2 linked regions of the Homo sapiens genome follow. The protein of the gene in region 1 interacts with the protein of each later gene in a pairwise test. Each region holds a gene or a part of one and is shown on either strand. Other genes may lie near its edges. The genes, in order: CASP10 and RNF34.

Evidence for each region.
Region 2: the proteins of CASP10 (region 1) and RNF34 interact in a two-hybrid assay, tested with the Homo sapiens proteins (one study listed by BioGRID and IntAct).

The regions. Positions count from the first base shown.
Region 1 is NC_000002.12:201,217,560-201,221,376, reverse strand, and holds part of CASP10 (caspase-10 isoform 1 preproprotein), read right to left. Parts: intron 3,790-3,817; coding exon 3,636-3,789; 3' UTR 1-3,635. UniProt on the Homo sapiens protein: Involved in the activation cascade of caspases responsible for apoptosis execution. Recruited to both Fas- and TNFR-1 receptors in a FADD dependent manner. May participate in the granzyme B apoptotic pathways.
Region 2 is NC_000012.12:121,406,301-121,410,117, forward strand, and holds part of RNF34 (E3 ubiquitin-protein ligase RNF34), read left to right. Parts: intron 1-2,160; exon of another isoform or gene 2,161-2,175; coding exon of another isoform or gene 2,176-2,409; intron 2,410-3,817. Other genes in the region: KDM2B (lysine-specific demethylase 2B), read right to left, coding at 2,176-2,409. UniProt on the Homo sapiens protein: E3 ubiquitin-protein ligase that regulates several biological processes through the ubiquitin-mediated proteasomal degradation of various target proteins.

The sequences.
Region 1 (3,817 bases):
TTCAGGCCATCTGGATATATATGTGCAGGTCACAAGGGATATGATGGCTTAGCTTGGGCTCAGAGGCCTGACAGGAGGTTTTATCAACAGCATTTTGTCCAACTGAACTCAGAGTCAAGAGCTGGCCTTCTGCTGCGGTAGACATCACGAACCAGTGAGGGAAGAATTAGATCTTACTCAGAGTATGTCAGGGGTAATGCTAGTGCTGAGTTGCCGCTAATAAAGTCAGCTGGAATTACGCACAAAGGAACTTAAGTCCTGCTATTTCTGTTGCAGTTACAACCGGAAGACCCTACCACCTAAAGGCATTTATATGCACCTCAGCACAGTTAGATTTAAATAGATGCACACATAGGACACATTCTTTTTCGTCTTCCCAACAGCTAATGTTTTCTCTACTTTACAGACAAGGCTGAAAAAAGCTAGCTTGATTTAGTTAGTGTCTCTGAGCAAAGGAATCAGGACAAAATGGAAATGCAGGGCTTTGATCTCCAGATCCTTTGCTCTTTCCTCAGTATCTCACCATCCTTCACTTGCCTTCACATGTCAGTTCTGCCAACTGGACAAGGACTGTGACCACTAGCTTTTGGCCCTGACTGTTATGAACACGGTTTTGGGAGATCATCCTGACACATGTGTAAGAATTAAAGAAAGAGGAAAGAAACATGAAAGGTGGCTTGACAGCCAAGGACAGGTTTATTTTAGAGAAAACAAATTTGAAAGGGGCTTCTGGCCGAGTTAGGTCAGAGCCCACTCACTTACAGACTAAGAGTTTTTAAGGATTTAGGGTGGGAGAGTTTATCAGAGGCTTGGATTGCTTCTATGTCTCTTTGCTGTGCTTATCTGGGAGGGAGAGTTGTGTGTCCGTTCCCATACAATATTTCTGCAGCTGTAGGTACACCCCACCCCCCTCCAGTCTGCTTTTAGCTTCCCCACTTAGTGCACCTGAAGGGAAAGGAATGTGCTTATTAAGGCTCATTGTTTTCCTGGAACCCATTGTATGAAGGCAAAGTTTGGCAGTTACCCAAGAGACTTCCCCCACCCCCCCACCTCCCTCTATGCCAGAGCTGTCTTATCTGTATTTTACTCTCTTCTCTTTCTGGCTGCTCGCTGTTAGAAAAGAAGTGATTTCCTTGAAATGCATGAGGCTAGAAAGGGAACTGGAACTTAAAGTGGCGGTGTTTGTCTAAGATGACGGTGTTCCTGCCCTGTCAATATAGATTAGACATTCCCTCTGTCAAGCTACATTCAAATCCACATGACAATCAGAGATATCAGAACAGTGTTCTTGTGAATATTCTTATAACAAATTTACTGTACATGAATTTGACTTTCACATAAATAATTATAAATGCAGGCACCACTGAGAGTTGTTGTTCTTCATTCCTTGACATTTTTTTATGAGCATTCACATATCAAATGAAACACTCCTAATGCCCTTCCACGCCCCAAGGCATTCCAGTTCACCTGGCTGAAGTCAAATCCAGTAAATGAGGACTGTGAGCAGGTTGTTCACATCCCCAGGCCTCAGCTGCCTCATCTATAAATGAAGGCGTTAACCACAGGACTTTGGATCTCCCTATGAGGGCTCACCTTTAAGGATTCAAAATACAGTTCCAGGAATTAACAGAGAAAAAGTTCCTCTAGAAATTGAAAAAAAAAAAAAAAAAAGCTCAAGTACGTAAAAATGCTCAAAATCTTAATGAAGAAAGCATCAAGGCGTCCTTACAGAGCCACTCCCTTCAGGCAAGCCAGACATCCCCTCTGCCAAGAAGAGCCCAGTGATCCTGAGAACAGCTTCAGTTTCTGACACAGCCTCTCTCCTCATGCCTTGGGCCAGAGGAGCAAAGTGTAGTAGCAGTAACAAGGTGGGGACTGTCCACTGCAGTCTACTGCATCTGCCAGCCCTGAGGACATCCGGCCAAGAGAAAGGTGCTGGCCTGTAGATTGAGTCCTGATTCAAGCTTTGCCTGAAGCCAGTGTTATCCACTCCTGGGTTTCAATGTGAAAGAGGCAATAAATTCCCTTCTTTGCTTCAGTCAATTTGAATTGGGTGTTCTGTCAATGGCAACTGAAATGTTCCAACCCCAATATTGAATTTTTTTTTTAAACAAGGTCTCGCCCTGTTGCCCAAGCTGGAGTGCAGTTGTGTCATCTTGGCTCACCACAGCCTCTGCCTCCTGGATTCAAGAGATTCTCCTGTCTCAGCCTCCCGAGTAGCTGGGATTACAGGTGCTCGCCGCCACACCTGGCTAATTTTTGTGTTTTTAGTAATGATGAGGTTTTGCCGTATTGGCCAGGCTGGTCTCGAACTCCTGACCTCAAGTGATCTGCCTGCCTTGGCTTCCCAGAGTACTGGGATTACAGGCATGAGTCACCGCACCCAGTCCAAAATGGAATATGACATCAGGTTGTAAAGTTTCTGCTTGCAGAGCAGCTGAGTGTAAATGAGCCATCATCTTCCTACAGGGAAACCTGTCTCTAACCAAATAAAAACTTCCTATGTGAGCACCTTCCTTACACAAAAGCAGGAAATGGGCCTGGCATAGACCAAATTTTCACCTCACTAGATGTGCAAAAGAGAAGTCTTAGGAAGGGGGAGATCAGAGAGAGGGTGGGTGGACTGTGACCTCACTGTCCAATGTTTAAGGGCATGCAGAGGGGACACAGAATTATAACTAAGGGGTAGTTGTCTAGAGAGGCAATCTAAGCTCAATCTAGGCTAAGAACGTGGTTTTTGAACACCAAGGAACCTTAAAATGCACCTGGTCCCCAGGCCAGGCACAGTATTTCATGCCTGTAGTCCCAGAACTTTGAGAAGCTGAGGTGGGAGGATCGCTTGAGCCCAGGAGTTTGAGACCAGCTTAGGCAACATAGTGAAACCCCATCTCCACAAAAAAAATAAAAAGTTAGCTGTGCATGGACACACACCTGTAGTCTCAGCTACTTGGGAGGCTGAGGTGGGAGGATCGCTTGAACCTGGGAGGTCAAGGCTGCAGTGAACAGTGATCCCACCACTGCACTCCAGCCCAGGTGACGGAGTGACTCTGTCTCAAAGAAAAAGTACCTGCACAAACCAAAGCCAATTACTCTGTCTTCAGAATAGACATCCAAAACCAAGGCTACAATCCAAGTCTTCAATAATGAAAGTTTTCTGGCCAGGTGTGGTGGCTCGTGCCTATAATCCCAGTATTTTGGGGACAGAGGTGGGAGGATCACTTGGGCCTAGGAGTTTGAAACCAGCCTGTGCAACAAAGTGAGATCCCTCCATCTCTACAAAAAATAAAGAATAAAAAAAATCCGGGCACGGTGGTACACACCTGTGGTCCCAGCTACTTGGGAAGCTGAGGCGGGAGGACAGCTTGAGCCTGGGAGGTCGAGACTACAGTGAGCCGTGATTGCCCCCCTGCACTCCAGTCTGGGTGACAGAATGAGACTATCTCCAAAAAAAAGAAAGTTTTCTAACATTTAGACTTGCAAAAGAAAAAGAAAATCAGAATTGACTGTGTCAGAAAACACGGTGTTTCCTGTTTCTAGAATGACAGGTGGAGACCACCGATTCCTGTGCTGGGCAGGAGGCTGGAGGTTATAGCCAATGATTCGTTTGAGGTCTAAGAACCAACAAAAACTCTCTGCTATAATGAAAGTGCATCCAGGGGCACAGGGAATACTAGTTTTTTCCTTAGTGTGAAAGCAGGCTGGGGCATCTGTTTCTTTGTTCCCTGTTTGTCCACTCTTCGACTCACATCATCGTTGACAGCAGTGAGGATGGATAAGATGTCTTCATGTCTGCAACAAAGAAGAAAACAAAATTTTT
Region 2 (3,817 bases), on another chromosome or scaffold:
TGTTTGAGACAGACTCTTGCTGTGTCGCCCAGGCTGGAGTGCAGTGGCGTGATCTCAGCTCACTGCAGCCTCCGCCTCCCATTTCAAGTGATTCTTGTGCCTCAACCTCCCCAGTGGCTGGGACTACAGGCACTTGCCACCACGCCTGACTAATTTTTTGTATTTCAGTAGAGATGGCGTTTCACCACGTTGCCCACGCTGGTCTCGAACTCCTGAGCTCAAGCAATCCGCCCACTTCAGCCTCCCAAAGTGCTAGGATTACAGGCGTGAGCCACCGCGCCGGGCTGGTGTTAAGTTTTTAAATACGATACCTGGTTTTTAACTGATATAAGCCAGGCAGACCATGGTCCTATGGTGGCTCTACTGAGAGCAGCTTTGGCTTAAGAGAGTGGGTAGGAAAGGGATTAGACTATCAAGAACAAGTCATTTATTTTTAGTAATCACTGATGACTAGAAAATAAACTCCAAACACAGGTGAATTCTCTGAGCTTGGAGTTTTGTGCTAGGCATAGGCAGACAGTTGCCTCATTCTCTTATTCTCTATGTTGTTTTAAACTACATTCATGGTCAAGAGAGGAAATTTAGCTATCTTCACGATTATCGTTCTTTTTTAAAAATATAATTTCAACTTTTAGATTTGGGGGTACACGTACAGACTTGTTACATGGGTATATTGAGTGACGCTAAAGTTTGGGGTACAGTTGGTCCCGCCAGCAGGTAGTGAACACAGTACCCAACAGTTAGTTTTTCACCCCTTGTTCCTTTCCTCCCTCCTTCCCCCTCCCCCCAGATTATTGTTCTTTCTAAACTGTTAGAAAAAGGGTTATACTTCTTACATACCACTTGGATGCATGTGGTATAACCCATGGAGTTTTGCTGCCAACTAAGGTCCCCAAGTAGGTCATGAAAGCCCAGATCATGGCTTGCATTTTGAAAGTTCCAGACTTTTCAGAGATCTGGCTTTGGGCTTTATTCACGGAGGAGTAACTGTAGGGTTTTTTTCCCCCAATGAACAAATAATGGATGGTGACCCTTCCATAAAGAAGGCACCACTTTGGAATTGAGGCCAGTGAATTGACTGCAAATTCAGAAGCCAAAAGGGTATGCCTAGTATACTGTCAGAAGCCAGAGGTGGGGGTATGCCTAGTATACAACAACTCAGTGAATTGACTGCAAATGCAGAAGCCAAAGGCATATGCCTAGTATACAACAACTCAGTGAACTGACTGCAAATTCGGAAGCCCAAGGGCTACGCCTAGTATGCTGTCTTTCCAGGAATTGAGTTTTCTCAAAATCTAGGAGGAAATGGAGTGGTTTGTAGAAGATGCTTCAATCTTACTATCAGTATGGAAGCAATGAATGAATAAAAGAAAAATAAAGGAATACAGGCTAATTTAACTGGAGGAAGATCTTAAAGTATAGGGAAGACAGAAATGGAACAGGAAAGAACATGAACTTAGGTCTCTAAAGCTTTTAAAAGGAGGGTGCAGAAGAGGGATCCTTGTTGGTTATGACCCTACCGGATATGGTAACTGGGTTCCAAGGAAATATAACAGAGGCAGAGTGTGAAGAGCTCAGAAAATAGATTGGCATATGTTCCCCCCATCCCTTGTCCCCCTCTCCACTGTAAGAGCTCAGATTCAATAAACCCTTGGGGAAATTGTCTTTTAAATAGTTCTCCAATTGCTTTTATAGGTTCTGTCAAGTCATAACAGAAAATGTGGGCCAAGCGTGGTAGCTCATGCCTGTAATCCCAGTGATTTGGGAGGCTGAAGCAGAAGGATCCCTTGAGCCCTGGAGTTTGAGATCAGCCTGGGCAGCATATCAAGACCCCGTCTCTAAAAAAATAAAAATAAATGGCCAGGTGTGGTGGCTCACGCCTGTAATCCCAACACTTTGGGAGGCTGAGGCAGGCAGATCACCTGAGGTCAGGAGTTCGAGACCAGCCTGGCCAACATGGTGAAACCCCGTCTCTACTAAAAATACAAAAAATTACCAGGGTGTGATGGCAGGCACTTGTAATCCCAGCTACTTGGGAGGCTGAGGCACAAGAATCACTTGAACTCAAGAGGCAGAGGTTGCAGTGAGCCAAGATCATACCACCGCACTCCAGCCTGGGTAACAAGAGTGAAACTCTGTCTAAAAAATAAAAATAAAAATAAAAATAAATAAAAACTAGAAAATGTGTACAGATTTAAGAGGGGAAAGATCAGTATAGGACACTTCAAGCACTGTTAGGTGAGTGTCAAGGTGACAGTTGTAGGTAGAGATGCCTTTGCCCTGAGGAGGCATGCAGAATAAATTTCTGAAATTTATGAGAAAGTACAGGAAGATGAAACATACTAAAGGAGAGCCAGGTAGATGGAGTCCAGGCTTGGAAGGATTTATCTTCTGGATGGATTCTTCATCCTGGAGGTGAAGAAGGACAAAAACACTTTGAACAATGGCTGCTTTTGATAGACCCAGAAATCACTGACTTTCTCCTCATATTGGGAGATTTCACACAAGAAAACGTGCAGAGGAGTTAAGGTGGGAAATAAAAGTTGGGGCCCAAAGGCAAAGAGCAAATAAAATCAAGGAGAGCACCAAAGTCCAGCAAAAGTTACAGGCCAATCTGTGGTAAAAAGGAAAGGGATTCATTGAAGAATCAGATTGTTAAAAACTCAGGTGACCCTTTCTTTTTTTTTTTGAGATGGAGTCTTGCTCGGTCACCCAGGCTGGAGTGCAGTGGTACAGTGGCGTGATATCTGCTCACTGCAACCTCCACCTCCCAGGTTCAAACGATTCTCCTGCCTCAGCCTCTCGAGTAGCTTGGACCACAGGCGTGCACCACCATGCCCGGCTAATTTTTGTATTTTTAGTAGAGACGGGGTTTTACCATGTTGGCCAGGCTGGTCTCAAACTCCTGTCCTCAGGTGACCTGCTGGCCTCGGCCTCCCAAACTGCTGGGATTATAGGCATGGACCACAACACTTGGCCAAAACTTAGCTGACCCTTTCTTAAAGGATTGGGTAAAACCAAAGTGGGATGCAAAATACTACATATCCCACAACAGAAAAACATGTAGACAGGTCTTGGGGAGTATGTTGCCGAGGCATTAGTTCCAGAACTCTAGGGCCACAGGCTTCCAAAGTAACCACAGCCCTTTCCACTCAGGAATTTGTGGAGGGTGATGTCCCAGCTGAAACAGTGTAGGCAGGAAGAAGACATCTTCCCTTTGACTGAGCAGGTCTTAAGCTTTTAACCTGGCCTGTATATCAGAATTACCCAGGGAGTTTTCAAAAAAATTCTGGTGCCCAGGCTGCACCACAGACCAGTGAAATCAGAACCTCTGGGCCTGGGACCCCAGGAATCAGTATTTTTAAAGACTTGCCTGGTGAGTCCAACATGCAGCCAAGGCTGAAAACCATTCTCTTAAGGGCAGTTTCACAACCCTAGGCAATTCCTTAGCAAGAAGTACTGACAGCAGCTACGAAGGTACAGGACTAAAACACCTGTTTCACTGAAGGGCAGCGGGGGTGGGTGTTACCTGGCACTTCAGTGCTAAAATGAATGTAAAGAAATTATGTTCATGGCCAGGCGTGGTGGCTCATACCTGTAATCCCAGCACTTTGGGAAGCCGAGGCGGGCGGATCATCTGAGGTCAGGAGTTCGAGACCAGCCTGACCAACATGGAGAAACCCTGCCTCTACTAAAAATACAAAATTAGCCGGGCATGGTGGCAGATGCCTGTAATCCCAGCTACTAGGAGGCTGAGGCAGCAGAATCGGTTGAACCTGGGAGGTAGAGGTTGCGGTGAGCCAAGATCGTGCCATCG